Linked DNA regions of Homo sapiens: all the other regions are linked to region 2. The links come from fine-mapping of genetic effects on gene expression. A gene starts in region 2. Each other region holds a variant in brackets. All regions are shown on one strand. Distances are between the middles of the regions. Region 1 holds the start of CRBN (cereblon). Region 2 holds the start of TRNT1 (tRNA nucleotidyl transferase 1). Region 3 overlaps CNTN4 (contactin 4). Region 4 overlaps CRBN (cereblon).

The links.
Region 1: its variant is fine-mapped to the expression of TRNT1 in whole blood (TOPMed, PIP 0.98).
Region 3: its variant is fine-mapped to the expression of TRNT1 in cerebellar hemisphere (GTEx, PIP 0.96).
Region 4: its variant is fine-mapped to the expression of TRNT1 in whole blood (TOPMed, PIP above 0.99).

What each region holds. Positions count from the first base shown.
Region 1 is chr3:3,175,326-3,183,451 of GRCh38, forward strand. CRBN (cereblon) reads right to left here and starts at 4,366. Exons shown (of 11, transcript NM_016302.4): 1 at 4,296-4,366. The coding sequence starts at 4,362. RefSeq lists a silencer at 4,430-4,599. The variant G/GCA (reference allele first, on the strand shown) is at 4,480.
Region 2 is chr3:3,123,555-3,131,699 of GRCh38, forward strand. It overlaps TRNT1 (tRNA nucleotidyl transferase 1), which reads left to right and starts at 3,386. Exons shown (of 8, transcript NM_182916.3): 1 at 3,386-3,436; 2 at 5,460-5,634. The coding sequence starts at 5,487. LOC124909339 (a long non-coding RNA gene) reads right to left here and starts at 3,277. Exons shown (of 2, transcript XR_007095786.1): 1 at 3,006-3,277. RefSeq lists a silencer at 3,090-3,509 and enhancers at 3,717-4,447, 3,870-3,949.
Region 3 is chr3:2,725,406-2,733,550 of GRCh38, forward strand. The region is part of intron 4 of CNTN4 (contactin 4); the gene reads left to right. Among named protein-coding and RNA genes, the nearest start is that of CNTN4-AS1, 330 kb to the right of the region's middle. The variant C/T (reference allele first, on the strand shown) is at 4,996.
Region 4 is chr3:3,157,268-3,165,267 of GRCh38, forward strand. All of the region lies in intron 5 of CRBN (cereblon), which reads right to left. Among named protein-coding and RNA genes, the nearest start is that of CRBN, 18 kb to the right of the region's middle. The variant C/T (reference allele first, on the strand shown) is at 4,207.

The DNA.
Region 1 (8,126 bases), 52 kb after region 2:
ATGTAATTCCTTCTTCAAAAGAGGGGTACTTCTAAAACCACATGCATTTGGTAAACTCTACAGCACCGTGAAGAGGGAGCCAGAGGACTGGGGTCCGTGCTGGGCTCTGTCAGTAGCTATTTTTTTTTTTTAAGTCAACTGTGAATTTTAGAATAGTTTAACATTTACAGAGAAGTGTAAAGATAGTACAGAATGCTCCCGTGTGTCACACATCCTTTTCCCCTATAGTTAATTTATATTAGTATGGTACATTTGCCACAACGAAGGAATCAGTCTTGGTACATTACTCTAACTAAGCTTCATATTTTAAATGGATTCCCTTAGTTTTTATCTAGTCTTTTTGCGTTCCAGGATCCCACTTTACATTTAGTTATCAGGTCCCCCTACCCTCCTCTGGGCTAGGGGGGTTTTCAGACTTTGCTTGTTTCTGAGTTTTGAGGAGTACTGGTCAGGCCTTTTGTAGAGTATCCCTCAACTGGGTTTTGTTTGATGTAATTCCCATGATTAGACTGAGGATACGTGTTTTAGGGAGGAAGACCACAGAAGTGAAGTGTTGTTATTCTTTTCCTTTTTAGAAATGGGGTCTGTTGCCAATGTGCTGTTTTTATTACATATCCAGCCTATATATTATGAACTATTCCTGCTGTTAACCTTGATCACCTGGCTACAGCAGTGTGTGTCAGGTTTTTCCGCTGTAAAGTTCCTTTCCCCCCTCCTTTTCACATTGTACCCTTCGGAAGCAAATCACTAGGTGTAGCCTCCACTTCAGGGGTGATGAGTTATGCTCCACTCCCTTGAAGAGGAAATGTAAGTTATTTAAAATTCTTCTATATGGGAGATTTTTCTCTTCTCCCTCACCAGTAACTAATTTTAACACCTTAGACAACTCATTCTGCCCAATTAAATTTTAGTTTCCTCATCTGCAAAATGATAGGCTTCAACAAGTCAACCTCTAACGTTCTCTCAAACTCTCAACTTCAATCAGTTCCTACATAAGTAAGAAAAGAAACAAAGCAGGCAAGATCTGTTAATTAAAACTGAGAGAAAGATAACCTAGCAGGAAGAATTTCACAGCATTTTTCTAGTGACAACATTTCCCTGGCAGTCGCTACATTATCTTAAAATGAAGGCCAGGTGTGGTGGCTCACACCTGTAATCCCAGCACTTTGGGAGGACGAGGCAGGCAGATCACTTGAGGTCAGGAGTTCAAGACCAGCCTGGCCAACATGTTGCAACCCCATCTCTACTAAAAACACAAAAGTTAGCCGGGTGTGGTTGTAGGTGCCTGTAATCCCAGCTACTGGGGAGGCTGAGGCAGGAGAATCGCTTGAACCCAGGAGGTGGAGGTTGCAGTGAGCTGAGATTGTGCTATTGCACTCCAGCCTGGGCGACAGAGCAAGACTCCATCTCAAAAGAAAGAAACAAAGAAAATTTTGCAATCATTTGCATACTATTTTGCTTAATTTTAAATTTAAAAATAAAGTTTGCATGAAGCATAAAACATTTTAAAAGAATGTCTTAGAAAACCAGATGTTACCAATGACAGCAAAGAAAATTAGAAAACGCTACACAATACATATGCTATTGTACTAACTGTGAGTCTGTCCTTTTCATACAAACTATGAGTAAATTTCCTATCCTAGACCAGTGACTCTCAACCACAGGTGATTTTGCCCCTCAGGGGATATTGGTTGCAATAACTAAGGGAGTCCTACTGGCATCTAGTGGGTAGAGGCCAGGGATGCAGCTAAATATCCTACAATGCACGAGACAATCCCACCCAAAGAATTCTCCAGCCCAAAAGTCCAGTGCTGAGGTTGGGAGACCCTGGCCTAGACTAACAATAAAGAATTACTGAATCTCATTTCTCACCTCCCAGTTCATGTATTTTTAAATGCCCCAAATAAACTTCTAAATCGATAAAATGTCATTACGAAATAATCATTTGTTTTCCTTTGCATATCATTATTTAAGTCAAACCACCTCTAGCCAGGCCCCTGACAGAAAATAAAAATGATTTTCAATATGGTAACTGCCTTGGACTTTCTATTTATTATTACAACTTCCTAGATATAAAACTTTGTCAAAAACAGAATTACTTCAACTTATATGTAAATAGCCAATGGTCTAACACTTCATACAAATTTTCCTTGGAACATGTAAGTTTCACTGAGATAAAAAAAGAGCTATCTAAATGGATGACAAAAATATTCTGCATCAAATTGTTTGTATTTCCAACTCTGACAGTATGGCTATCACTTGGCATGCAGCACAACCCACTTTATTGCTCTACTACAGAAAGTTTAAAAGATAAACTATTAGCTCAAAGGCTGGAATTAATATTGTTAAAAATTTACATTTTAACTGTTCTGACTCCTAGTCTCTAAATAATTTCTTTAGTAACCTTTTTTTCATAAATATGGCTAAAAACCACTTTCCCCTACTCAGTTATGTTTATTAATGTTTCATTTGCCTAGGATAAACTCTTCACATCTCAAATATAAAGCTTTTTGTTGGAACTTAGAGGATTTACTCTTCAGAACAACTCGTACTACATGGAATTATGGAAAGCCCAGTGTTTCCCTACAAATAAAATTTACGTAATTTGGAGAGGCATTATTGCTATATCTACACCATCTCTGGGCCCTCTCCCGACGCTTTTCTGAAAAACAAAAAACAAAACAAAACAAACAAAAAAAAAACAAACAAAAAACCACGCTGACTGTTCAGAGCTATCAGTGAAGTCTGATGACTCATCTCATGCAGAGGCACGATGTGAATGTCGACAGAAGATCAGTATCCTCCCTCTTCTATTCACCATTCTCCCTGAAACACCGGATTTGGCACAGAGAGTAGGGCTAATGTCTCTGAAAAAATAGCTCAGCTTTCCATCAAAGGCTGGCACACTTACCCTTGTGTCAACTCAGCTAGAATGGCTTCGAGAACAACCAGTGACTATGGTTTATTTTTACAGAAAAGTTCTCTCCTATATGGTGGGCACGCACTCAGTCTCTTCCTCTTTTAATCCATGCTGCTACCAGTGGACAAATTAATCTTCCAAGCATAGATTTCTTTAGGCAATTACCTGAAACCTAAAACTGTTTCTTGGCAATCCACAGGAAAAACCCAAACCCACTGGCAAGAGATGCCAGTTTCCCAGCAACTTAGACCCAATATACCTCCTAGGCCTTATGTCCCACAACCATATCCTAAATATGTGCTTTTAGATGTCTCCTGATCTACCTGAAAGGCTTTTTCCCAAATCCTCTGACCCTTAAACAACCTCTGCCTCTGAAGAGCCACAACAGCATTCATTTATCTGGCCCTAAATCAACCGCCTCTGCAGTTGATTTACGTTTAGTTATATTCTCAGCAGCCCCGCCTAGACAGTAAACCTCAATTATCAGATTGTGTATTACCTCTCGTTTCATCTCCACAACACCTAACATACTTGTCATATAACGAAGGGACTCAAGTAATACTTTCAAGTTTGGATGATACACCTTTTGGAAAGCATCTCTTGAAAGGCATTCCATGAAAAGTTTATGCAATATTCCATGCATTTTTTTTTTTGTTCAGTATTTCAACACAAGGCCAAAGTCTAAACATTTCACACAACATACAGGAAAAAGAAAAACTAAGTATCTCTGATTAAGCATAATCGTACATGCCTGAGAAAGACCGATAGTAAGAAAAACAAAACAGAGAAGTGGTTTAGAGATATAATGACAGACACACCCGGGTTGGAATCCTGACTCTGCTGTGTGACCTTGGGCAAGTCATTGAACTAATCTGCAAATCCAATACTCGCTTATCAAATCGGAAACTGAAAACTGATGTGGGAAGGATTAAAAGGCGACATGCATGCAAAGCGTTAACTGCACGGCTCGTAACATGGTAAGTGCTTAGTACATGTTAGCTGTCACTCTTATTAAAAGGAAGGAGACCAGCAAAAGTAACCGCTGTGAATCTGACCCGGTCCTCTAGTTTCAGAGCATTTCCTAGGAGCTAAACTCAGAACACAAGGAGGATGGAGAGGATGGGTTTCCTGTTCTTAATAGCAAATGCTCCCCCCGACACCCTGGCTCACGGCTCGGGGCAACAGAGCAGCGAAGAAAGCGCCGCGACTCCATCGCTGGCCGAGGGCCGACGTGAAGCAGCTTTCCGGTGCGGCCCTGCTGGGCTGGCTCGCCAGGCTTGGCGCCCCCACGCCCGCCTCCCAGGCCCAGCTGCACCGCTAGCGGCTCCGAGCCTCGCCCCACTCCCGACTACAGGGAACTACTCCGGGCGGTTACCAGGCAGGAGCGGCAGGTGGTTGCCCATGTTGTGCGCAGCGTCCTGCTGATCTCCTTCGCCGGCCATGTCTGTTTACCCGCAAAGGAGGCTGGGACAGGGCGGTGCCGAAGACTCCGAGGGAGGGCCCGTGTCGCGCGGCTGCCGCGCACCGGGGCCACAGCGCCCCCTGGCGGCCCCAGGGGA[G/GCA]CAGACGGCGGCGCGTACCCAAGCCTGAAAGTGATGGCCTAGGCGGGAGGGACAATTACAGGCCTGCGCTCCGTCCCGGGGACAGAACGCCGTCCCCTGCCATCCACGGCTGAGTGCCCGGCGTACACGCTGCAGAGCCCTCACTTTGTTCCAGCCCTTAGCATGACTTATTTAATCCTGATATTTTGCATATGGAGAAACTGAGGCTGAGAGCCTTTAGTCTCCACCTTGTTTTTAAACGAAGGGGGCAGGGAGCAAATAGAAACCTGTTCATGCAGCATTAGTTTCAATTCTTAAAATAAGAAGCATATATGTGAAGGCTGGGGAAATCCATCAGTTATTCCGAGGGTGGTTGAATTATTGCTGATTTTCTTCAGTAGTTTCAATGTATGTACATACAACTTCAATAACTTCAGTAGTTTCCATATATGTACATTACATTCCAAAATTAACAAGTATTAATCAGAAACATACTTGAAATGATGATTGCACAGAATGGAAAACGCCTTATAATTGGTAAATAAAATTGTCTGAATATAAACTAGCCTACTCATTATGACTTCAGCTATGTAAAAACAAGTCACTGTGGCAAAAAAGAAAGACTATGTAAAAAATGAAGATAATTCTGTTATAATGGTGGAGTTGTGACTGGTAAGATATTTGTTTTGGAGGGAGGACAAAAGTTTTCGTAGTGTATTTCAGTATCACTTTTTCAGCGAGGAAGGAAAACTGAAAAATCCTTAAATGAAATACAACATCTAAACATGGTAGTGGTGGTGGTGGGCGGAGGCTGAGAGGAAGCAGCAGCATTGCTCAACAGAAAAGTCATGGATCTGAGATTTGAAAAAATGATTTCAGAAAATTTGCCTCCCTGATAAGTTACAAGCAGAAAACTCCCTTGTGACAGAGGCTTGTGAATCATTCCTGTGTCATTTTGCCTCCTGTCTCCGAATCAGTCTGTGGTCTTCGTCAAATCACTTATGGCTGCGGGCCTCAATTCGCCCATTTGCAAAATAAGAACGAACCAAATAGTGTCGCCTATTTGTTCCAGTTAATAATGTCTGCAACATGAATCATAGCATCACCTTTTACGATGAGGTTAATAACAATTACATATACTACGTAATGATTTAACGGAGTTAAGGTGATCACTCCAGTCAATTGAAGGATGATTCTATGCCAGAATGCCAGCACAGAACGATGAGGGAATGGCCGGTGTATTGGTGTGCGTGTGTGTGTGCCCACGTGAAAGAGAGAGAGAACGCAAGCAAGCAGGGAGCATGCACTAAGTAATATGTGTGTGTGTTTGATGCTGTAACATTATGTCTCACTACAGTTTGTAGAATTTCAATAACCTGTGCTTACGTGCAGTAGAATTTTCTTTACACAAGCATCTAGCTTCTGAATAAGTAAGCTCTGACTTTCCAGTCTTTCTCCCCAGAGGTGATACCAGAATTGTCTGAACCCTGGGTCAATCAAGACTTCTCCGGACGAGAAAGCACAGCTGCAAGGCTGGTGGAGTCTACAAATGTGGCTGGAGAAGCACTGGCTCTTTCTCTGTTCTTTTGTGCATTGCTACAGATCACCGGAGCTCACATCTGTGTATCTTTTACTCCCCAATTCTCCTCCTCTCCTCTCCACTCTTCACATTCACCACCTGCTCCCTCCTTCATTTTATCCCTCCGGAGTCTACCTAGTCATCCACAGCTACACCTTTCAGTAGGGATAACAGATGATCATTGAACAAAAATATCTAAGCAAGCAGGTTTCTTGGATTAAGCACTGGTTATTAAAACCAAAAGGAAAACATGGTCATTTACCATTTGTTTAATTTGGTAACTTTATCCTGAAAGAAGATATCATACTGAGTTGTTCCTAACATTTCCTCTTGCTTGCGTGCAGTATCAATGGATAAGGAGCTCTGCAAGCCAGAGGGAAAAGAAATATATATGTTCATAGATCACTGTCTTACAGCTCAAGAATTAACTTTAATAGTACAGAATTAAGGGTGGTAGAAGACGGGAGAAAATGTAAATGAAAAGGACCATCGCTCTTTCCATTTCTGGCTTCTACACAATATTAGCAGCAAGGAGCACATAGACTGGGAGAGGACATTTCTGTCTCCCTTTATATTGTATTTTCTCTCTCTCTGTCTCTCTTCATATATATATATATATATAAAATTTTTTTTTCTCGAGACAGGGTCTTGCTCTGTCCCAGGCTGCAGTGCAGTGGTGCAATCTTGGCTCACTGCAACTTCCACCTCCTGGGCTCAAGTGATCTTCCTACCTCAGCCTCCAGAGGAGCTGGGACCATAGGCACCAGCCACCACGGCCAGCTAATTTTTGTATTTTTTATAGAGATGGGGTTTTGTCATGTTTCCCAGGCTGATCTTGAACTCCTGAGCTTAAATAATCTGCCCACCTCCACCTCCCAAAGTGCTGGGGTTAAGGGATTAAGGATGAGCCACCATGCCCAGCCTCTACATATTTTTTTAATGTGTTAAAGAATGCTACTACTCTGGTCTAAGCGGTTGATTATCTCTTGCCTGGAGTATGGCAATAGCACCAACACTGGTTTCTCGGCTTCTACCCTTAGCTCTCACAGTGCTTTCTCAACAAAGCAGTCTGAGCGATCCTGTTAAAACACAAGTCAGATTATGTGACTCCCCTGCTCAGTACCCTTCCTTGGCTCCCCATCTCCCTTGCAGTGGCCCTTATAATGCACAGTGGGCCCCCAATATCCTGCCCTGATGTCACTTCACTGCTGCTCTGTGGGCTCTCCCTCCCCTCCATCAACACTGATCTTCTTCTTCCACAACCACATGGACCCATGGCCACCTCAGGGCCTTTGCAATTGCCTTTTCCTTTGGCTGGAGTGCTCTCCTCCTGCATAGATGCGTGACTTTTCCCCTTGTACCTTCCAGGTCTTGGGTCAAATACCCCTTCCTTGGGGAGTCCTTCCCACACTACCCAGTGTCAGATTGTGACCCTCTTCCCACACTTCCCACCATTTTCTACCCTTCTCTGCTTCATTTGCCTTCATCAAAGCATTTCTCAACTTTTAAAATACTATGAGGCCTGGATAACGTAATGAGACCCTGTCTCCAAAATAATAATAATAGAATAATAAAATACTGTGAGGCTTACTTTTAAAAACAGTCTCATTTCTCCCCCCTCAAAGGTATAAGGTCTGAATGGGGAATTTCTGCTCCCAAGAACAGGTTCTGGCATTTAAAAGCTGCTCAAAAAATGTTCATTAAATGAAAGATGAATTGCACAGTTCTGGCAGACACCGATTTCCTACCTACTCAACAGCAATTCCTCTTTCCTTCCTTGCCAAGAACTCTGATTTTGTTTGGGGCAATAGTGTACTCTGCTATGGGGTCGTGTTTGCTGTAAGCCTGTAATAACGAGCCCACTCTATTCCTCCAAGCTCCTCTATGGCTGATGGTATCACCTGATCTGGTCCTGGCTAATGACACCTAGAGAAAGTCAGCTTGGTAGCCTCTGAGAATGAAGAGGGAAGATAACTTTTAGAAGAGATTTTCCTCCATGATGAAAGGCAAAGATATCATTCCTCCCCACTTCCATCTGGGATGAAGATTAAGACCCATATTGGTTTGATGGATAAAACCAGCCAACCTA
Region 2 (8,145 bases):
TCCCAAAGTGCTGGGATTACAGGCAAGGGCCACCATATCTGGCCTCTTAGCGATTGATGAGTATCTTTATATATGTTTGGTTGCTAACCATATAGCTTCTCTTATTACGCTTATTTCTTCATATGTGATATATATTTTTATGTACTATATTTTTGCTGATAATATATAAAAATAGAATTGATTTATGTATATTAACCTGGTATCCTGAGACCTTCCTAAATTTACTTGTTAGTTCTAGTAGTAGTTTTGTCAGTTCCTATGATTTCTGTATAAACCACCATCATGTCATCTGAAAATAGGGACAATTTTACTTCCTTTTGAATTGTTACACTTTCCATATCTTTTTCTTGCTTTGTTAATGGTTATAAACTACAGACAAATGTTAAGAAGTGGTAAGATGAGGCATCCTTGCCTTCTTCCTGATATAAGGGGGAGAGTGTTCAATATATTACCACTAAGTCTGATATTGGCTATGGATTTTTCATGAATGACCTTTACTATATTGAGGAAGTCCCTTCTAATTTTTTTGGCAGTTTTTATGAGTAGGGATTGAATTTTAAGTGGTCTTTCTGCATCTATTGTGATGACAACAGTTTTTCTTTTTCAGTTAATATGGTGAATTACGTTGATTGGTTTTAGATCATTAAATACAACTTGCATTCCTTGCACTGGGGACAAACCCAAATTGATCATGATGTATTATCTTTCTATATACTGTTGGATTCAATTTCCTAACATTTTATTAAAGTTGTTTTTGTTTCTATGGTCATGTGGTATATTAAGCTGTATATTAATTTTTTTGTAGTGTTGATTTTATGTTATGCGGGTTATGCTGGCCTCAAAATGAGAGGAAAACTGTTTCCTCCTCTATTTTCTAAACAAACTTTGCACAAGACTGGAGTTCTTCCTTCCTTATGCGTTTGATAAATTTGACCACTGAAACCATCTGGGCCTGGAATTATCTTTGTGAGAAGTCTGTTGAACAACAATTCAATTTCTTTAAAAATGAAAAGCTATTCAGATTTTTAAATTCTACCCTATTTCAGTTCTGATAAATTGTCTTTTTTATAGAATTGGTGCGTTGCATCTACATTGTCAAATTAATTGGCATAAAATTGTTTATAATACCTCCTCATATATATCTACATGATCTGTAGTAATACCCCTATTTTTGTTTTATTGTCTTGGCCAGTACAGGAGGAATTCTCTTACTCTCTCTCTTTCTCCTCTCTCTCTCTCTCTCTCTCTCTCCAGTTGACCTTCCATGGCCATGGGTTCTCCATCAGTGGATTCAACCAGCCACAGGTCAAAATATTAAATAAGGCTGGGGCACCATGGCGCACGTCTGTAATCCCAGCACTTCGGGAGGCCTAGGTGGGTGGGTCACCTGAGGTCAGCAGTTCAAGACCAGCCTGGCCAACATGGTGAAACCCCGTCTCTACTAAAAATACAAAAATTAGCCGGGCGTGGAGGCGGGTGCCTGTAATCCCAGCTACTTGGGAGGATGAGGCAGGAGAATCGCTTGAACCTGGAAAGCAGAGGTTGCAGTGAGCTGAGATCGTGCCACTGCACTCCAGCCTGGGCGCCAGAGTGAAACTCCATCTCAAAAAAAAAAAAAAAAATTAAATAGCAATTAAAAAACACAAAGAAGCGATATAGCATAACAACTGTTTACACAGCATTTATATCAGGTATTATAAGTAATCTAGAAATGATTTGTACTACAGAATGTGTATAGTCTATATGTAAATATTATGCCATTTTATGTAAAGAACTTGAACACTGGCTGGGGTGATGTTCTGGAACCAATACCCCATGGATACGGAAGGACAACTGTATATACACCTGCATATATAAACTATATATTTACAAGGCCAGAAATTGTTGAGGGTGCCCAGCACAGTAACTGGCACGAAGTAAGTCATCATAATAGTTGTATTAGCGTTGCCTTCATAGGTGGTGATTTGGAGAATCTATTCTAGGTGGGTACAGCAATGGAGGCTTTGGTCCAGTTTGTCTAGGGTCATGGTGGTGAGAAATAGCAGACAAGCCTGAAAGGATGATTTGGGGCTTTCCTTGCCCCAAAGAGAGAGAGAGACAGAAAATCCTTGCACCGGATGATATCAATGCTGTGCCTCTGAATGTCCATTTGGAAAGCCAGTCCTGTGCTTCCAAAAACAGGATATTCAACACCTTGAAGAGGTGTGGTAATTGCACATCTTACTTTTTACGTTTTAGGAAGTCTACAGAGAGTGGGGCTGAAAAGTTTGGGAAGAACAGGTAGGCATGTGGGGAGGGCAAAAGAACAGAAATAACATGCACAAGCATTTTTCTAGGAAAATTTTAGGGAAAGCTAAGTGATGTAAAGTTACACTTAAAAGACTACACATTTTCGGCCGGGCGCAGTGGCCGAATCCCGGCAAAAGTAATCCCGGCACTTTTGGGGGCCGAGGCCTGGGGAACACGAGGTCAGGAGTTCGAGACCAGTTGGCCAACACGGCAAAACCCCGTCTCTACTAAAAATTAGCCGGGCGTGGTGGCAGACACCTGTAATCCCAGCTACTCGGGAGGCCGAGGCAGGAGCATCGCTTGAAACCGGAAGGCGGAGGTTGCAGCGAGCCCAGATCGCGCCACCGCACTCCAGCCTGGGCGACAAGAGCGAAACTCCGTCTCAAAAACAAAACAAAACAAAAACTACACATTTTCGCACTTTAAGGGCTCAACGGCTGTATTCCCACTCCTTTGCCACTCTCTTTGCTCTTTTCCGCTCTAGAAAGAATTAATGAACTGGATCAAATCTAAGTTCTCCACGTTACAGATGGGAAGCCTCCGGGCCAAGGAGGCCAATGGTTACACAAACCAGGTAAGAAAATAAAATATGCCCAGTAAGTTCATAGGACCGGCGGGCTTAGATTTCGAATGCGCGTGACTCTGTCAACTGTGGACTTAACCCTATGCAGAGATTAGAGGAGAGAATAGTCAAACACGGATAAGTTAACATTTACCGAACAGTCCGTCCTACCCTGGGGTAGGTTTTATTAACAGTCTCGTTTTGCAAAGGAAGACAGCTGCCAGTTGTCTCAGATCGCACGGGCATGCCGCGCAGATGGGCTTCTGAGCAGCTCAGGGCCAGCCAGAGGTCTGGCGAGAAGGGCGTAATTAAACGAACCCGCGCCGGTTTCCTCAGGGCCCCCCGGGGCTCCGCTTCGCCCCAGCGGGCCTCGGCGGGGCTGGGAAACCGGCTGAGGTTCGCCTCACGGTGGGGAGGAGCGACGGGAGGCGGAAGCCCTTCGGTCCGGGCCCCGCCCCCGCACTCGCCCTCGCCCCGCCGCGACTTCCCATTCGCCGCCAACCCATGTGCGTTGGTGACGTCACCGCGTTCACCAGCCCGGAAGTGCGCGTGGCGGCGGTGGCGGCTGCGGCAACAGCGGGGCCGGTAAGCGGGCGCGCGCCGCTCAGAGGGGCAGAGTTGGTGGCGTGAGTTGCTGCCCCTTCCTTCCTGCTGTGGGCCAGAGGCGCCACCGCGCCCGGTCCTCGAGGAAGACGGGAGCGGGACGTGGCGAGAGGCCTCCTCAGCAGTGGGCAAAATAGCCCCGACGCGGAGGTCGTGTCCCCGCCACGTTTCCGGCGACCGCAGGCGCGGATTCCTTGGCTTCCCTCAGCACTTTCCCCTCCGCGCGGACGGCCCCGAGACGCTTTTTCACTGGGCCTTGTCGCCAGCACCCGGCGTGGGGGGTGAGACGCGCCTTTTCAGGGCTGGGGTTCCCCAGAGCGTTTTCCTAAGTCGAGGCGGAGGTGCGAGGAAACTGAGTGGGTCTTTCCGCCCCACGTGGCCTGCCGGGAAGCGCGGCTCCTCCACCCGCTTCCGTGGAATGGAATGGTTTTTCTCTGCAGGTTTACACCGGGGTCACTCGAGAGCTGCTGCGGCCTCCTTATGGGCAGGACCCCCGTATGGGGAGAACGAGGATGTGATATGTAGAAGGGAAGGCCGCGGTGTGCCAGAAATCAGAGGAGATTGCAAGATGGCAGGAAAAGAATCAGGAAAATGGGGGCAGCAAAACTAAATTCATGGGAAAATACAATGTCTAGGAGCTATCCCAGGGTCGTGAATCCTCGAGTGCAGGTGGGGAAGTAGGGTGATACCCACCTGTGACCATGACAAGTTTTGGAGACCAGAAACTCGGTTAGAGTTTCTAGAACCCCGCATCCCTCTCATACTGCCTGAAGCCCTGCTCTGGGGAGAGTGTCATCACAGTACCATGTGGCATGCGAGTGTCGTGGTAATGCTCCCCGACCAAACCACCAAACCGAGGGTTGGGCTGCTTATTCTCGCTGCCCAATAATGAGATGCAGATAAACTAGGAAAGAAAGGAGTTTATTTCTGTAACCAGGTACGGGGCGAAGGCGTGGAAAATATCCCAGACCGACTCAGAATTACAGAGCTTTCCAGAGCTTATATACCTTGTAAGTTGTATGTTTATGTGTAAGTGTGCATTGATCTAAAGATACAAGTGATTAACTTCTTACCCATAAGATCTGAGTCCTGAAGACCTTCCTCTGGAGCCTGAGTAAATTTACTTAATCTAAATGGGTCCAGGTGCTGGGGTGATTACCCTTATATTCTCTCCTGCTAAATCATGGAGGTTTGGGGAGTTCCCTCAGACCCCTAATAAACTTGTTCGTGGAGGCCTGGGGAGTTTCCTCAGATCCCCAGTAAAACTTGTTTAATTCTAAACGGGTCCTGTTAAGAATTCCTTTGTGGCCGGGCTCAGTGGCTCACGCCTGTAATCCCAGCACTTTGGGAGGCTGAGGCGGGCAGATCACTTGAGGTCAGGAGTTCGAGAGCAGTCTGGCCAACGTGGTAAAACCCCGTCTCTACCCAGAAGTATAAAAAATTAGCCGGATGTGGTGGTGTGCGCCTGTAATCCCTGCTACTTGGGATGCTGAGGCAGGAGAATCTCTTGAACCCAGGAGGCAGGGGTTGCAGTGAGCTGAGATCGCGCCACTGCACTCCCGCCTGAGCGACAGAGCGAGACTCCATCTCAAAAAAAAAAAAAAAAAAAAAAAGAATTCCTTTGTTATTTTATCATGCTTCAAGGTCCAGGAAAGGCCTAGGCAAAACTCTTGGGGGGCTTTTGTTACATTCTAGCCTTGTTTAAGGGCACTGGCTGGCTCTTTCAGCTTTTAATATGTAACTCAACCAGTCAGTCAGTACTGAAACAGTTATGGAGGCCTGCGCTAGTGAGACCCCGCCTGCCACAGTAAGTGCTTCTGGAGAACAAAACCAGGTAGATACATAGACCTAGTCGTAATCCCTCAAACTGACACCGTTTTCAGTTTTTTCATCTGAACAAGAGATGAATTTCTGAGTTGATAAACTTGAAATGTGTCCCCCTTTGTTTTCCTTCACTTACCTTCACTTTTAATTTCATTGGTATGCCTGTGTATTTGCCTTGTAGATGTGTAGTTGGTGACTGCCTCTCCAGATGCTGAGGTGCCTGTATCATTGGCACAGGCCAGTGCTGAACCGTAGGTGGAGTAGGCTGTGCCTTCCGAAGCAGTATCTATTCACAATGAAGTTGCAGTCTCCCGAATTCCAGTCACTTTTCACAGAAGGACTGAAGAGTCTGACAGGTGAGAGATTAGGATACCTTTTCTTGATTGGAAACCTATATAAATGGAGAAGTAGAGGGTTAACTTTTTAAGCCAGCATTCGGATATTTTCATTGTTGTTTTAATTATTTTTATTAAAAAACGTAAGTAGAGGGTCTCTTTGTGTTGCCCAGGCTGGTCTCAAAACTCCTGGGCTCACTCCTTGGCCTCCCAAAATGCTGGGATTACAGGTGTGAGCCACGGTGCCCAATGTGCACGTTTTCATTGTTGGAAGAAAGGCTTGGCTGGGTGTACCCAGCCTGTAATCTCTTGGGGAGGCCAAGGTAGGAGGATTGTTTGAGCCCAGGAGTTTGAGGCTGCAGTGAGCTATGATCATGCCACTCTAGCCTGGGCAACAGAGTGAGACCCTGTCTCAAAAAAAGAGAAAGGAATATTAAAAGAGAAAGGCTTACATATGGCTGATCCAAAAATATAGCTAAATCACTGGAAAAGGCAAGAAGTTGACTGCAGTAAAAAGCATGGCTTTTCTGTATGCTGTGCTAAGTACTTGCCATTCATTACAGGACTGGTGCTACTAACTTAATGAGTACGCACATTTTGACCTGTTACGTGAAAAAGGAAACAGATTGTTAGGCATGTGAAGTGCTTTGCCTGTGTTTCTGTAACTACTAACTAGAGAGCTAGGTTTCGAACTTACGCAGATTGATTTCAGAGCCCAGCTTGCAACCGCTAAGCTCTGTTTCCTTCCTAGGTATAAATGCTTTCCATGAGAACTGAAGGAAGAAGGAAATAGGAGTTGCCTCCATTGTGCACGTTGCAAAACCTGTCTGGAAGGAGCATAGGAAATGGCTTTAGCTAAGTGCCAGTAGCTTCTTGCTGTTGCCACAGTTTCATTAGTGTTGATTCTCAATGTTGTCTGCTGATGTTGCTAAAGCAGCCACACAGTAGCATTACAAAGCCTGTGGGAATTTTAATAGCACCTTCATAAATATATTTAGTAGTATATGTAGAAATATGACCTATACAGCACTGGCTATCTATTAGATTCACCTGGGGAGCTTTTAAAGCACACATGCTCGGGTTCTACCTGCAGCCTACTGAATTAGAATCTCTGGGTGGGATGACCATCTATATTTTTAATAAAAGCTCCACAAGTTAATTCTGATGCACAGAAGATAGACGAACCATTACTTTAACATGACTCACCTTGTATTAGCTTATTCTCAAAGCTACTTTCCCATTCTTGAAATTGGATGATGGCTTTTTAGGTACGTGCCAGAGATAAATGGCCCAGAATATGTTGATTCTTTTAGATTGTTTTAGGCAGACTTTAAGTAGAGGGCTTAAATGCATGTTTGGTTTTGCCGATGCTTCACTATCTTTTTTAATTGGAGAGAGTGAAAATTGCTAAAAATTGCTGTCCAATAGAAATTTATGAGCCCATATGTAATATAAACTTTTTTACTAACCACATTAAAAAGATAGAAATGGTGAAATAAATTTTAATAATTATTTTTGGTTCATCTAATTTAATCCAATATATCTAAGATACTATCAGTATGAATTTTGTATAAAAATTGTTAATGAGGCCGGGCACAGTGTCTCCCACCTGTAATCCTAGCACTTTGGGAGGCTGGACATGGTGGCTCATACCTGTAATCCCAGCACTTTTGAGTGGCTGAGGTGGGTGGATCACTTGAGCCCAGGAGTTTGAGACCAGCCTGGGCAACACGGTGAAACCCCATCTCTACTAAAAATATGAAAAATAGGCAAGCATACTGATATGTGTCTGTAGTCCCTGCTACTTGGGAGGCTGAGGTGGGAGGATCACTGAAGCCTGGGAGGGGGGCTTGCGGTAAGCCGAGATTGTGCCACTACACTCCAGCCTGGGCGACACAGACCGTGTCTTTAAAAAAAAAAAAAAATTAATGAGATATTTTATATTCTTACTTGGAAGTCTTTGAAGTCTGGCATGCATTTAATACAGCACATCTGAATTCAGACTTACCACATTTTAAGTGCTCAGTAAGTACAAGTGGCTGCTGTTTGAATAGTGCAGATTTTGAAGCTGTGATTTTGGGTTGAGTTGAAGCTTTTTTCTTTCTGTGTATGCCCTTCACAGCCCCCAATTTTTCAACTTCAATTGCAAGAGGCCTCTTGGAAGAAGGAGTAGTAATTAACTCTTGATGGCCTAACTCAGGTCATTCTGCATTTTTTGGAAATAAGGTTCTAAATATTGATTACTATAGTTTCTTGAACATCATTTTAACAATTGTGTTTAACGTTCTAAACCTGAAACTGGCTAGCCATATGTAGAAAGCTGAAACTGGATCCCTTCCTTACACCTTATACAAAAATCAATTCAAGATGGATTAAAGATTTAAACGTTAGACCTAAAACCATAAAAACCCTAGAAGAAAACCTAGGCATTACCATTCAGGACATAGGCGTGGGCGAGGACTTCATGTCCAAAACACCAAAAGCAATGGCAACAAAAGCCAGAATTGACAAATGGGATCTAATTAAACTAAA
Region 3 (8,145 bases), 400 kb before region 2:
GGGAGATTCTTTATGCGTAGAAAGAATACACAAATGCATATTGAAGGCATTAGCACTGCTTTTGGTTAACGGTCTTTTCAAAAGGCCACCATTAAAGTGTATGAATTCCAGCTTGAATCTAACAGTCTCCAGAATGACTTAGATTGTAGTTATATATATTTTTTTACAACAAGAAACTGTCCTGTAGTGGGGAAGGGCCTGGACAACACACATGATGGAGTTTTCCATATGCATCCAGAAATACCAGAAGGGGTACAGTTCAAGGAAGCAGATTTTTAGGGAGTAGTTGATCCCGGTGGTGTTCAGGTTGAAGTACAGACACAAAAATGAACAGTAAGTCCACAGAGAGAAGGCTTTTGCCTGCCACATTGCTGAAGACCAGTCTTACTTGTATGTATTCACACACACACAAGTACATTTGGAGAAATGTCAAAAAGAAATAAGAATAGAACGAAGACCAATGACATGAAGAAATAACTCACTGAATAAATTGGTGTGTACCTTTCTATGCATATAGTGTTGATCAGGAGTTTCTTAGGTACAGCTGATAACAACTGCAACTCAGATTTGCTTAAATGAAGGCAATCATTAGCTCTCATATCTGAGAATCTTAGGGATAAAGCTTGCTTGGGACGGAACTTGTTCCAGAGCTGAAACGATGCCATCAGAACTCAGTCTGTCCCTATCCTTTAATTTTGCTCTTTTCTGTTTTGGCTTCATTCTCTTTTTAGGTTCTCTCTCTCTATGTGGGAGTCTTTGGAAGCTCCAGGCTTCCTTCTGTAAGCAATTCTAGACTACAAAAGGGTTTTTTCCTTGTAGTTTTATGAAAAGTCCTGCAATGGAGTCTCATTAGCCAGGCTTTGGTCACCCATGCATGGGAACCAATTTAACCAAGAAAATGGAATATTAATTGGTCAGGCCAATTGATAATGTATAAATAAGTATTAATAACTTATCAATGCTAAGCAGTGTCATCTGCTACTCCTGACCTGTGCAGAGGATTTTAGTCTATCCAAACCACTTGAGTTGAAAGAGTAGGAGGGTTGGTTCACCAAAGAAAGAGTAGAATGCTCTTACCTAATGAGGAGCAGTGGATACTGAGGCAAAAATCACAGATGTCTACTACATAGTTATGCCAGTAGGGAAGCACCATTGAGTGAATTAGTGACCCTGATATCTCATTTACATTTCTCTAGCTAAAGCCAATCAATTTTATACATGTATGTTTCTATGCTTTTATTCTCATGAGTAAACAGTAATGCACCTAAATATAAATCGGAAAGTTTGCTGCAGTGGAGCGCTGGGTTGTTAGGGTAGTACACTACTCTGTGTGATATTGTAATGGTGGATCCATGTCCTAATACATTTGCCAGGACCACAGCATGTGCAATACGTGATGGACCCTGATGTGAACTGTGGGCTTTAGTTAATATGCATGCATTCATATTGGCTTATCGATTGTAACAAATACAGCACAGGAATGCAAGATGTTAACAATACGGGAAACTGTGTGGAGAAGGAGTGTAGGCAAACTCTCTGTGCTCTGCTCCATTTTTCTGTAAACCTCAAACTGCTCTGAAAAAATAAAGTTCTATTAATTAAAAAGATGAAGTTAGCTATAACTATTATTAGTCCTCTCTAGAGTAAACATTCCATGAGGGCAGGACAATGTCTGCTTTGCACACGGTTATGTCGCCTCCATGTAATATTGGAATTGGAATCCAATCTAGTCCCAGAAACTCGGATCAGAAGCCATTTGGGTCAGAAATGTTTGAGAATTTAAAATGTTTGTAATTTTAGAAGAGAAATATAGCCCACAAAACATGCCCAGTGTTACATAATAGCATCCCCAGCTGAGTCTGGGTCAGCACTGCATAATCAAACGCATTTCTAATTCTGCAGCAAAGCATATGAATATTCACATTGAGTCTATAAATAGTCTCCCATCAGTTCCCATCAGTTCAGGTCAGTTTTTGCCTCCAAATGAGTTACAAAGTATTTGCATTTGTTGGAAATGCTTCTTTCTTGTCATAACTAGGGCTTGGCGTCAGTATCACCCAATTACTTATTTTTAAAAGAGTCATTAATCCATTGTTCCTGGAATGTGTCAAGGTTTAAGATCAGGGTCAGAGTAGGATACATTGATACAGCCCCACGGCTGTTCTTTTCCACGCCTAAAAATCCTCGAGCAATGCACAATTTTTCCCCAAGGAGAGACCCTTTTTAGCTCCCAGCACTTCCCCGTCCTACCACTGTTTCTAAGATCTGGCATTACAAACGATTAGGGCTTCATTATGTGTGGGACAAATGCATGATGGCGGCAGCATTATTTTGTTAACAAGAGAACAAAGAAATCGTCTGAGAAGAGTTCACTTCTCATTTGGATTTTTTTCACTTTGTGCCTTCAGACATACACCAGCTGTCGGTAGACTTCTCTGTTTCTTGCTGTTTAAAATGCTCATTTGAGGGGTTAAAAGAAGGAAGGCGGAAGCAATGACAAATGAAAGTAATGTTTATCCTTTAAGCAGGCATGTCTGTCTCCTCTAATATTTGCTTTGCCTCTGCTCTATTCAGCTGAACAACCAAATAGAATACTTATTCAATAGAAACGCTGTGTGTTGGCCAGTTTTTCAAGTAGGCACTTGGGTAAGGCCTTTGAACATGCCTTGCTGTCTGTCTTATAAATACTAACAACACTAAATTGTATTAGTAATGATAGTGTGACAGCTGTCCAATCATCATTTCTACAATCAGTGATTGAATTTTAAAGGAATTCTTGCACTCAGGAAAATCACTCTTACAGTATTTCATTTGTTTGTGAATTTCCTTAGGTTATTGCCCATACGTTTTATGAGTAATTTAGATCCACAGAGATGCTGCTGATCTTACAGTTTTTTAGCCAAAATGCATTTCCCTAATCATTAGGAAGCCTGGAGGAGAAGGTTCACAGCCAGCAGGACACAGTGTGCCCTACGTGTGCCCTTCTTGGAACATGCTGGTGGTGGAAAGAGTAATGGTTCTTCCCATTGGGTTCCCCCTTGGTGTGAGTGGTGAGGGAGAAAGTGAAATATGAGCAGGACACTGAGAGCACACCCAACAACCCAGCTTAGCAGAACTTCCCCTTCCTTTTCCCTGGTGACTTTGTTCTGCAATCTGATAAAGCAACACGTTCCCACTGATTACACACACGGAGCATTTACTCTCTTGATTGGTCAAGGGCTCTGCAGGATATAGGCAAAGCCACTCTGGTTTGCACCAGGTTACTTCTGTGCATGCATAACGCAAAAAGCTACCTACCCTCCAGATGTGACCCAGGTACAACTCATATCTAAACCCATGCAGTCTTCCCTGGCTGGTATTCTAAGCTTCTATTCAAGCCCTTGTGTTCCCCATTAGGTGTCCTAGAGTTTACTTCCCAAGTGAAAATTGTTGCTCTTGAAGTGTTTCTACCCAAGACCAGGTGTTTAATCAAATAGCCCATTTGATGTCATGGGAAGATTGACTGTATATCACAGTGCTGGGTTCTTGGCTGTTATGGCAGCACTTCATACCTGCCATTAGGATTAAGGGCTTAAACAAGTTTCAGGTGCAACACCTGGGAACACCACAGCAATGACAAGTAGACTTGAACCTGGAATTTGTAGTTTTCTAAGATGAAATCATAATATTGCATTTTTGTTCTTTCCCAACAGAGTCAGTTGAATTTGCAACAGATGGAAATACTTCCAGCAAAAGAAAAGGGTGCTGTTCTAAGGGTCATGCGGCGAAATGTGGCCTTCATCCCACGGAGTAGCCGCAGAGTGATCTAGCACATAGAACAGAACTCTGCAGGGTAGTTTTTCTTCACTGGGATCCTAACCTGTTTAGAAATGAAAGTGGCCGGGCGCGGTGGCTCACGCCTGTAATCCTAGCACTTTGGGAGGCCAAGGCGGGCGGATCACGAGGTCAGGAGATTGAGACCATCCCGGCTAACACAAAATTAACAAAAAATTAGCCGGGCGTGGTGGCAGGCGCCTGTATTTCCAGCTACTCGGGAGGCTAAGCAGGAGAATCGCTCAAACCTGGGAGGTGGAGGTTGCAGTGAGCCGAGATCGTGCCACTGCTCTCCAGCCTGGGCAACAGAGTGAGACTCCATCTCAAAAAAAAAAAAAAAAAAAAGAAGAGAAAAGAAAAATGAAAGTTGTCTGTGCTCAATTCATAACTAGTTTTAAAACTTTAGAATGCATAGGCCAGGAGCAGTGGCTCATGCCTGTAATCCCGGCACTTTGGGATGCGAAGGCAGGCGGATCACAAGGTCAGGAGTTCGAGACCGGCCTGACCAACATGCTGAAACCCCGTCTCTACTAAAAACAAAAAAAATTAGCCAGGTGTGTTGGCACGCGCCTGTAATACCAGCTACTAAGAAGGCTGAGGCAGGAGAATCGCTTGAACCTGGGAGGCGGAGGTTGCAGTGAGCAGAGATCAAGCCACTGTACTCCAGCCTGAGTGACAGAGGGAGACCCCATCTCAAAAAATAAAATAAAATAAACTTTAGAATGCATAAAGATCAAGAGATGCTTGCTCAAATGCTGTTTTCTGAGTCCTGATAATTAGAATCCAGTAGGTCTGGGAGGGACTCAAGAATCTACCTGTTAACAAGCACTCTTAGCTAAGGTCATAGAGGTTCAGTATCCCTTATCTAAAATGCTTGAGACTGGAGGTGTTTCAGACTTTGGTTTTTTGTGGGGGGTGGCAGTGGATTTTGGAATATTTGCATATATATAATGAGATATCCTCAGGATGACACCCAAGTCTAAACATGAAAATCATTAATGTTTCATATATACCTTATACCTATAGCCTGAAGGTGATTTATACAATGTTTTAAATAATTTTGTGCATGAAACAAAGTTTATACTTTGAATCATCTAGCACAGGTGTCACTATCTCATGTTGGCACTCAAAAAGTTTTGGATTTTGGAACATTTCAGATTTTGGATTTTTGGATGAGGGATG[C/T]TCACCTGTTTCAGCCGGGAGGTTTCTTGACACACTTTGAGAAATAATTATTTTAGGTATAGTTTGACTTACCTTTTTACTATGTTGCTTTCTATGAAATGTTTATTTTGAGATTAGATCTACTGCCTGACTTGGTCCAGCTCCTAGGATTGTTCACAGATGCCCTGTAAAAATAAAAATAAAAACCAAAAAACTACATTTAGCATCAGTGGAATTTTCCTAGCTCCACCCACCCTCTAGCTTCCTGCTTTATGCGTGTTATCTTTTTTTGACCTTTCCCTTGGAATCCAGATTTTGTTCTGTACTTGCTCCTGTGGGCTTGATATTTGGGCATCTGCCTCACTTCCTTGAGTTAACCATCACCTGAGATTCAGGCTTATTTTTCTCTGCTCAGCCTCAGCCCAGCCCCATCCATTCAGATTCTCTTGCCCAGCCTCGCTTCCAGCAGCCTGAGTAGTATCCTGCTTGCCTGGGAGGGAAGTTCAGGAAAATGTGGAAGTGGGCCAAATTAATTAAAAGAAAAAAAAATAGAGATCATTGATGTTCCAATACAGCAAATAAATTAAGTGACACCCGGCTGCGGAGAGGTGCTTTATTACTCTTTTTCTTAGAGGGTTTTTTTTTTTAAGTCAAAAAATATTTTGTTTCCATTACAGATGTGGTCATTTTTATTCTGTAACCTAGGAAAATAATATTAAATAATATTTTCTAATGGAAAATTCTATGATTCTGTGCATCTCTTTCAGTAATCCAAAAATTTCAGATTAGCCCAGAGACACTATGTTTTACTTCTGGGACCCTTGTTTCTGGTCATGAAATCTGTGCTTTTTTCTGATAATCCAAAGATTTCCCACTCCTTGTTGAAGCATGAAAGCAGATTTTTTCAGCCTAGTCTTCTCCCTTCCCTTTATGAAGATGGGTTTATCCATCCTAATTCAAGATAATTACCGTGGTATGGAACTTTGCAGAACACTGGTAGTCTGATAGAAGTTAGCCTAGTGACTGATTGGCAGGTACCTAGTTACCAAGGAGAAACAAACTCAGGAAATCATGAAATCATGATGTAACAGTATTGGTGCCTGCACTAGATCCTCCAAGCTGTGTGTCAGATCAATGGTCTGGAATCCACAAGACTGTAGGTGAGCTCTTGGCAATCTTACTGCTCACTCCCTCATTCCTCATTCCTCCTCTTAACATGATTTTTAGGAATTCCTAGAAGGGTGGAAAATCATTGCCTTCCCCTCCTCTAATAATGTGAGCCCATGCCCCTAATTTCTCCAAGGCAGATGATGCCCTGGGGCGACTCTCACCCTTTTGGGGACCCAAGTGTAAAAACATTAATCCCAACATCCTGTCACTCAAATAAGAAGACATTCATTACTTATAAATAAATGGTAGTGGTTACAGTATAAATGCTATGTATACAAATGAAGACAAACTATAACTATAGGTCAGTGGACTATTGTGATCTCTAAGGATGCCTGCTCTTTGTCAATTCAGTGCAGTGCTTGTTGGGGAGGGTGGTGTCTCACAATTAGCTTCTGGAGTTCAACTACAAGTGTTCTAAGAAAGAGTTAGTTTATGTCAGTCCTAGGCCTTGACACATTCATGTGAGTCAGTTTTATAACTTTCTGTTCCTGGATGCTTCCCTCTCAACTATTAGTCCAGGCAGGCATGTGCTAAAATTACCTCTCTAAATCTTATCAAGCAAAGATTTGTTGGTTAGACTTTGCCCCCAAAAAAATGTGTCTAGGAGTGGGTCTAAAACCGGTGTTGGCCGATGTTCTGTTCTTAGGAAATGGAGAGCCAGGAATAGAAGGATCTGTGTTAGTAGTTCTCAAACTTCAGTGTGCAGAAGAATCACCCAGAGAGCTAGGTTAAAGGGCAGATTAATGCACCCCAGATTCTTCTGGCGTAGTCAGTCTGGACTGAGGTTTGATAAAACAAGCATGGCATGATAATAATGCAGGTGGTCTACAGTCTAACTCGGAGACGCATTGTATTATTAAATCTTGTCCTCTGTCATTTGCTGCGATGCTCTTTACCTCTTTAGACTGAAAATCACAGCCACTCTTCTGGTTACATAGAACAACTTACTGTGATAAAAAAAAAAAAAAGATGAACTTTATCTTCTAGGCTTTGAAAACGGTAAATGCAGTCTTTTGTATGTGCCTTCAAGACACTTGAAAGTCACTTTGTGGCTGCCACACAGAGATAGAACAAACTTAGGGATGCCTCTCCCCCTGTTTCATCTCAGAACGCCTCTCTCAGGACTCTTTGTCTCACCCAGGCACCTCAAGGTTTTGGTGAAATAAAGCAGCTCTTTTTTCTCAAAAACATTGTTAACCCTGGTCCGAAGGTTTAAAAGCTAGGATATCTGGGTTTTTTTTAATACCTTGATAGCTAAACTTTCTAAAATTTCTCCCTTCATCTTTGTGAGCCCAAATAGCTCGTGCACAAAAGCCTGTGGATTTCCTTCGATGAGAACTGAAATACTATTCCCTTTATGCTAATGTTAATTTTCAGGCAGTGAGCTTGGTTAACTATGAGAAAATAAAAACTTTAGATGGAATGCATTATTTATAGTGAATGCAAAGCATCATTATTATCAATTCTTGTTACAAAATACACAGAAAAAATATCTTTTTGTTATTTAAATATTGCATGGCTACATTGAGAAACAGTACAGATGTTAATCCACAGTCTCTCAGCTGCATCCTGAGTAATCATTATTACGTTTTATTCTTATGTGGAATAACTAGTAATAGACTCTATATTTCTGTATGAAATTCAAATCAGGGAACACCAATGAATTGAGATGATTGATATTATATATACACACACATAATTTTGGAATTGGGGACAACAATGGAAATATTTCTCTCTTAGAGAAAATCCACCAAACTTGTTGCTTTATTAGTGATCTTGACGAATAACATGTTTCATTTACCTAGATGTGCCAAAAATCACTTAATTCTTTACCATTGAAGTGAGCTCACATTTGACCAGTACTTAAATATGTTTTGAAAATATCTGTGTAATTGTTAAAAATCTGAAATTGAAATGTAAATATCTGGATTTTGAAATATCCAACTTTAAACACAAATTTTTTTTTTAAAGTGCATGTTTGTGTTTTTTTTTTTTTTTTTT
Region 4 (8,000 bases), 34 kb after region 2:
TGCTCTGCAAGTGATCAAAGAACAAGGTATAGCAGAATATAAAGAATTATCACATTTTTCTCAAAACAAAACCTACATACGTACAAATCTTTGTAATTTCACTGTAAATAAAATGTTAATTGACATGTGACATGACACATGAAAGTGAGAGAGAAAAGGAATAAGGTAGATCAAAAGGCACTTTTAACAGACCAGAACAAGAAAAACAAGGTAACATTTAACAAAACAAGAGGAAGACCCTACTCCTGCACCTGCAATATCAAATGACTAGGTATGTTTCATACGCTGAATGATACTTACCCTAGGTATGTTTCATACCTAGTCATATGATCTTGCAAGTGCCGGAGTAAGATCTGCAGGAAACGTGGGAACACAGCACACATAAAAGGGACTCGGGACTGAGCTGACAGCTGGAATTGTACTACGCAACTGTACAATGTGCTACACCACTCACACCCTCGACTTCCCCGCCACTCCAATCCTATTCTAGCTATGTTAGTTTGGTGCAAAAGTAACTGCGGTTTTAACAGAAGACTAGAATCTATGAGACAATGTTATTCTATTCCATGCTGTTCAAATATGGGAACTTTTATTATCAAAGGGAATGTCTTGTTACCAGAGATGTTCAGTTTAGAGCTGTCTCTCAAGTGGACACACTGGTTTTCAAATATTTTAGGAGTTGCAATATGGAAGAGGACAGACTTGTTCTAAAACACGACCTACAGCTCAAAACAAAGGATTCCTTAATGAGAAACATTTCTGGCTTAATATAATCCTTATATTTGAGACTATGCAAAGATCAGCCGTCCCCAACCTTTTCGACACCAGGGACCAGTCTCGTGGAAAACAGTTTTTCCAAAGATGGGGTGGAGGATGGTTTTGGAATGATTCAAGTGCATTACATTTATCATTAGATTCTCATAAGGAGCACGCAGTCTAGATCCCTCCCATGCGCAGTTCACAATAGGGTTTGCGCTCCTATAAGAATCTATGCTGCCACTGATCTGATAAGAGGTGGCGCTCAGCTTCACTTGCTCGTTCACCACTCACCACCGGCTGTGCGTCCCGGTTCCTAACAGGCCACAGACCAGTGCTGGTTCGTGGGCCAGGATTTGGGGACCCCTGCCAAAGGTGATCTGAGATGGCCTCCTACTGTGTGCTCTGGTAGTGGTTAAAGCCTGAGGAGTCAGACCATGAGACCCTTCAGGTACTCTCCAATAAGTTGTCCCTCACTTTTAAGACTAAATACCTAATGGTAAGATTATTGTCACAGTCCAGTTACAGAATTTAAGAAAATACTACCAAGAGCACATCAAGTAGCTCTGAATCTTCAGGAACAGCAATGGCAACCATTAGTATTGTGCCAAGAATTTCACATTTCTTGTAAGAATACTCTAAGGTTAGTAGTTTATTATCTCCATTCTAAAGTAAGGAAACAGAGGCACACAAGGATGGTATAACTTGCTCAAGGTCACAGAGTCAGTAAATAGGAAGGAGCTAGGATCTGTATACAGGGAGTCTGACTCTAACCATCATTCATTCAACAAATATTGTGAGTGCCTGATAGGGTTTGGCCGTGTCCCCACCCAAATCTCATCTTGAATTGTAGTTCCCATAATCCCCATGTGTCGTGGGAGGGATCTGGTGGGAGGTAACTGAATCATGGGGACAGTTACTGCCATGGTTTTCTCATGATAGTGAGTTCTCACGAGATCTGATGGTTTTATTAAGACGGTTTTGACCCTTTTGCTTGGCACTTCTTCCTGCCATCATGTGAAGAAGAACATGTTTGCTTCCCCTTCTGCCATGATGGTAAGTTTCCTAAGGCTTCCCTAGCCATGCTGAACTGTGAGTCAAATAAAACTCTTTTCTTTATAAATTACCCAGTCTTGGGTACGTCTTAGCAGCGTGAGACCAGACTAATACAGTGCCTAACATGTGTCAGGCTATTTTTATACATTTAGGCTATGCCAGTGAATGAAAGAAAAACCAACAAAATTCAATACCCTGTCGAGCTTATATTTTAGAGAGAAGAAGCTATATATTCTTAGAATTACAAAATGACAAAGACCCAACTGAAAGTTTTAGTTTCGCTGACACACTCCTCATTCAGTTATTAAAATATACTTCACATATCAGAATGGTCACTTTTGTAATACAAAAGAAATGTAAAAAAGTGTAGTACAAAAGTGTAATTTCATTTGGCACCCATGTCAAGAAAAAGAATCTGAAATAATATGTAAATTTCAAGTATAAAGAGAATAAAATGTGGCACACTAGCATATTAAGAGCAATGCACTGGATCAGGCATTCACTCTGCCACCATGCCCATGAGCAAGCTACAGTTTCAGGTAGCTTCTTTTCAGAGTCAGAAGACCTCTAAAATTCTTTATCTGGAGCATCCTGACAGATTCAAATATGCATAATACATCCTTAATATTTGTGATGTGTGTTAGTCAATTAGACACACTGAAGAGACATATACCAGAACAGATTAGCTAGCTAGCTTTTACAGAGCAACTGCCAAAGTTTAAGACATTTCAACATCCTCAAATTTAAGAGTCCCATTTAGCTTTCTGGCACAATAGGAAAGGCTCCTGTCTTATATCTGGGTAAAATGGATGATAAGTTCTAGCAATTTATAGGCATTCTTTAAATATATCAACACCATGATTGATGTCATAAAATGGTTATACCTCAAGAAAATTTTAATACTAGCCAAAAAGTTTAGGCACTTAAAAGTGACCAATGACGGATTCTCCAGCAGAGTAGTATTCACTCTGGGAACAGGATTTACTACTGAAAGCAGGCATAAAAGCCCTTAAAACGAATCTGTTACCTGGAGGTAATCTATCACAGTCCTCCATTCTTAAGCCTCATAACTATGGCTTCGGCTTTGCCTCCCAACAACGTAGAATGTTCAAAACATGTGAAACTCCATTTAAGTGAGTCTTTGAAGTGCAATGAAAATGGAAAGAGTAATGTGAAAAGCTAAACATAAATAGTAAATCACTACCACTGACTTCCTTTATATAGTGACTAAAAGTGGTCACTTATTGTGTTAAATCCTATTACAATCAGCAATGTAAATGACAGAAATAATTTATATAAATAATTAAAAAGTTACCAGTTTTTGTTTCCTTCTTTCATGAACCAAATTCCTACATGGTAATAAGAACTGGGATGGAATGATAAGCTCTTTCCTACTCCTGAGGCTTATACGCTAATGGCAGATACACAAGTGTACATACAAGATGTATGCCTGGGAAATGACCAGTCTTTCTGAGGAAGCACCTGACTATACATAGCCTAAGATTTCAAGACTTTTCTTCTTTATATAAAAATAGTCAATAAATGTTACTGTTCTTACGATTATTATCCTGGAACAAGGTGAAACAGATTCTCAAGTTCACAAGGAAATGTTAATCAATGGTAGTCACTGAAAAGCTTGACAAAAAAGCAGTGAGGGGCTTACCAGCCCTATTTTTATTTACACAAAGTATAAAGTGCCAACATTAACAACAATATGATGATGGCACACAAGCAGACCAAAAGAGAAGAAAAGTAAAATAAACATATGAATTTGGTCTGTGACAATGGTGGCATCTCAAATCAATGGGAGAAAATATGGACTATTCAAAAAGTGGTAGTAGGACAATAGGGAGCCATCTGGAAAAAAGTAAAGTGGAATTTATATCAGGATCAACTGCACAAGGATCAGAGCTTTCCACGGAAAAGTAATGAAACCACAGCAAGTATCCAAAGAAAACATGAGACATTCCTTTGCATGGGAACGTCATTTTTGGCTATGATTTAGAATACAGAAGCATTAAAAATTAAACTATGTAAGAACAACAACAAAAAAACAGTTCTGTTTGACACACCACACCAAAAACAAAAGACAAAAGACAAACTAGGAAAAATGTTTGGAACTCATTAATTACAGAGACTATAAAGCTTACAAGGAACTCCCAAGAAATCAACAAGCCGTAGAAAAATGGGCAAACACTTTACAGAAAGGAAACACAAACTGCTCTTACAACAAAATGCTTACCCTTGCTCTCAGAGAAATTCAAATTGAACCTTCAATGTAATATATTTCACTTATCAGATCAGCAAACATCAGGTTTGATACTACATTGCCTGTCAGGCCATGATGAAACAATAAAAATAAGTACAAACACCTTAAGTATTTTGAAAATAACT[C/T]GCCTCCCGGGTTCCAGTGATTCTCCTGCCTCAGCGTCCCAAGTAGCTGGGATTACAGGCACCCGCCACCATGCCCGGCTAATTTTTGTATATTTAGTAGAGACGGGGTTTCACCATTTTGGCCAGGCTGGTCTTGAACTCCTCACCTTGTGATCCACCCGCCTCAGCCTCCCAAAGTGCTGGGATTACAGGCGTGAGCCACTGTGCCTGGCCTCAAAATTATTTTTAAAACTGACAGAATTATAAATGCATTTACCCTGTGAGCCAATAACCTCACTCTTTAAAAGTTATCATAAATATTTACCTATATAAAAGGTCATTTGTACATGTTATTTAGTACAGATCTATCATCAGTATGGGACTGGTTATACAGTGTATCCATACAAAAGAATTCCAAGCAGCTTTAAGAATGAGCAATGCTCTATAAACTAATACAAAAGAATCTCCTATAAGATACACCGTTAAGAAAAAGGTACGTATCCTTCTGTATAAGAAAGAAATAAGAACATTTGTATCTAGATAAAATTAGGAGGAGATTTAAACACTAATCTGGGAGATTACGTATGAGACCCCTGCCCTTCCAAATTCATGCTCAGTTCCTCCCTGCTCTACGCAATAAACAGGAACAACCATGGCTAAGTTCAACAGAGGCCAGAAAGATGAGACTCATTACTTTCTTAGTATCTGTTTCCCATTTGACTTATCTTTACATTTCATACTCAACTCTTTTCTGATTAACATAGTAAGCCTTGATATATGAATAAGCAGATGGTCTGGGCAAGCAGGGAATATACTTAGAAACATTTAAGTCATACTCCAAACAGGTTTAAACAAAATTTCCTCTTTTTTTTTGAGGAGGATTTTTACTGTAGGGGGATTCTCAAATCCCCCTACAGTAAACCAGTGAATAGAGAAAGGCACTGTGATGGGAGAAGAAGTAAACAGTTTCAGAGCTCAAATTCCAGAACAAGAAATGTCTCTAGATGGAGTGGGTTTTGAAAGTGTTTCCTAATTACACTGGCCTAACTCCTTAATCATGAGAGACACGTGCTGAATCTTCTCTAATGCTTCCTTGTCAGAATGGTAGATAACACAGAACACTTCCAGAAGCTTAAATAATTTTATTTCATGTCATTTGAGTTGTTTAGGTTTCCACGGCAAATGCTGTGTGCAGTTTCAAAGTTAATTGAATATATCTCAGGAAGACTACAATCCTCGATACTTTAAGTTCCTTTTCTGCAGGAAAAGTGCGCGGCAACCTTATTAGCTTGAGTTAGCTTAGTTATGTAAGCATCTCCCAACTCTGACCATTTTAACTACTACTCAGACACAGAGACAGAAGACACATATGCAGTACTTCAGATTATGGTGGGATGGACAAATCAGATACAAGCAAGCTCTATGAAGACAGGAATGAACTGAACCTTGTATCTGTCTAAAGACAAACACTGTTACATAATCCAGCCCTCATGGTAAGCTAGCGTCCCACTAAAGGTGCAGCATGCCAAACCACTCAGATGGTCCCACTGCATACGGAGTTCCTACCAAAGATATCTGCCATCCCCTTTCCCTGTTGGATTCCTTTTTGATGCACACAGAATGGCTCTAAGTGGTCTCTCTAAAGCAGAACAGAGTTTGTAGGTCACTTGGAGTCCAAAATAGATCAGCTAGCGGTTTCTCTTGGCCTAGTGATCTAGATTCCAAATTTCAGAACCTAAGAAACTCTATCAATGTTTAAGCAAGGGAACCCTGTAGATAACCTGACGTATATGGGATGGAGTTATTTGTATCACCTAAAACCTTTTAGGCCTTCTCATTCCTTAGCATCGTCTCTTTAGCCCTTGGCAACTCTGAATATGAAAATAACCAAGGGCTAATTAAGACAAGAGGAAAAATTCAGAGGATCTGAACCCAGGCAAATATGTGCTTCTTTGGTCTTCCCAGCTCTATCTTTTCTTGTCTTATTAAGCCAGTGGCAACCCAGTTGCATGGGCCAAATTCGGAATGTAATGTAAACAAGATGCTTTAACCATAGAACAGGAAGAATTTAAGTAGTAACTCACATAAAAAATAAATTTAAAAAGCAGTCTTACTTGCTTAGCCCAAGTTCAGGTTTAAGACTGCAGGATCCTACAGGCAGGTCACAGAACTAGCTGTACAGAGCACTTGAGTCAGGAATTAACTACCACTGCTCTCACTCTATACTTAGAACTTTGCAAAGAAGCGTTAATTTAGGATTTTTAATGGTTAAGAATTTTTAAGCCATCTTGGTGCGGAAGAACTATTCTATATACCCAAATACTTAATACAGGCATACTGTGATTCACAGATACTGCCTTTAAAAACAAACAAACAAAAAAAAAATTAAAGATTTCTGGCAACCCTGTTTCAAGCAAGTCTATCAAGCCATTTTTCCAACAGCATGTGCTAACTACCTGCCTGTGCCATATTTTGGTAATTCTCACAATATTTCACACTTTTTCATTGTTATATCTGTTATGATGATTTGTGATTAGTGAACTTTGATGTTATTACTGTAACTGTTTTGGGGCACCACAAACTGCACCCATTTAAGACAGTAAACTTAACAAATGTGTTTTGATTGCTCCACTGACGAGCCCCTCCATCTCTCTCCCTCTCCTCAGGCTTCCCTATTTCTTTGAGACACAACAATATTGAAACTAGGCTAATTAATAACTTTACAATGGCTTCTAAGTGCTCAAGTGAAAAGAAGAGTAGTCAAGCATCTCTCACTTTAAATCAAAAGCTAAAAATGATAAAGCTTAGTTAGAAACACATGTCAAAGCTGAAAGAGGCCAAACGCTAGGCCTCCTGGGGCAAACAGCAAAGCTGTGAATATGAAATGCTACTCTGGTGAAAGCCAAAAAGTCTTATTACTGATATGGAGAAAGTTTTAATGGTCTGGACAGAAGATCAAACCAGCCACAAATTTCCGTTGAGCCAAAGCCTAATCCAGAGAAAGTCCCTAAGTCTCCTTTCAGGGGCTAATAGCTGGTGACTTTAAGTTAAAGCCAATGCTCACTGGCCATTCCAAAAATCCTAGGGCCCTTTAAGAATGCTAAATCTACTCTGCCTGTGCTCTGTAGTAAATGGAACAAAGTCCGGATGACAGAACATCTGTTTAGATAATGGTTTACTGAATATTTTAAGCCTGCTGTTGAGACCTACTGCTCAGAAAAGACTCTTTATAATTATTACTGCTCATTGACAATGTACATGGTCACCCAGAAGTTTTGATGGGAGACATACAAGGAGATTAATGCTGTTTTCATGCTTGGTAACAAAATTTCCATTCTGTGACCCATGGATCAAGGAGTAATTTAAACTTTCAAATCTTATTATTTAAGAAATACATTTTTCATAGGCTATAGCTGCCACAGATAGTGATTCCTCTGATGGATCTGGAAAAAGTAAATTGAAAACCTTCTGAAAAAGAGTCACCATTCTAGGTGCCATTAAGAATAATCATGATTCATGGGAGGTGGTGAAAATATCAACCTTAACAGGAATTTAGAAGAAGTTTACTCCAACCCTCATGGATGACGATTTTGAGGGTTTCAAGCCTTCAGTTAAGTAACTGCAGATGTGACAGAAACAAAAAGAGAACTAAAGTTAGAAGTGGAACCCACAGATAGGACTGAATTGCTGTGATCTCATGATCAAACATGGATTAGGAGTTGCTTCTTATGGATGAGCAAATAAAGTGGTTTCTTGAGAAGAAATCTACTGCTGAAGATGTTGTGAATGTTGAAATGACACAAAGAATTCAGAAT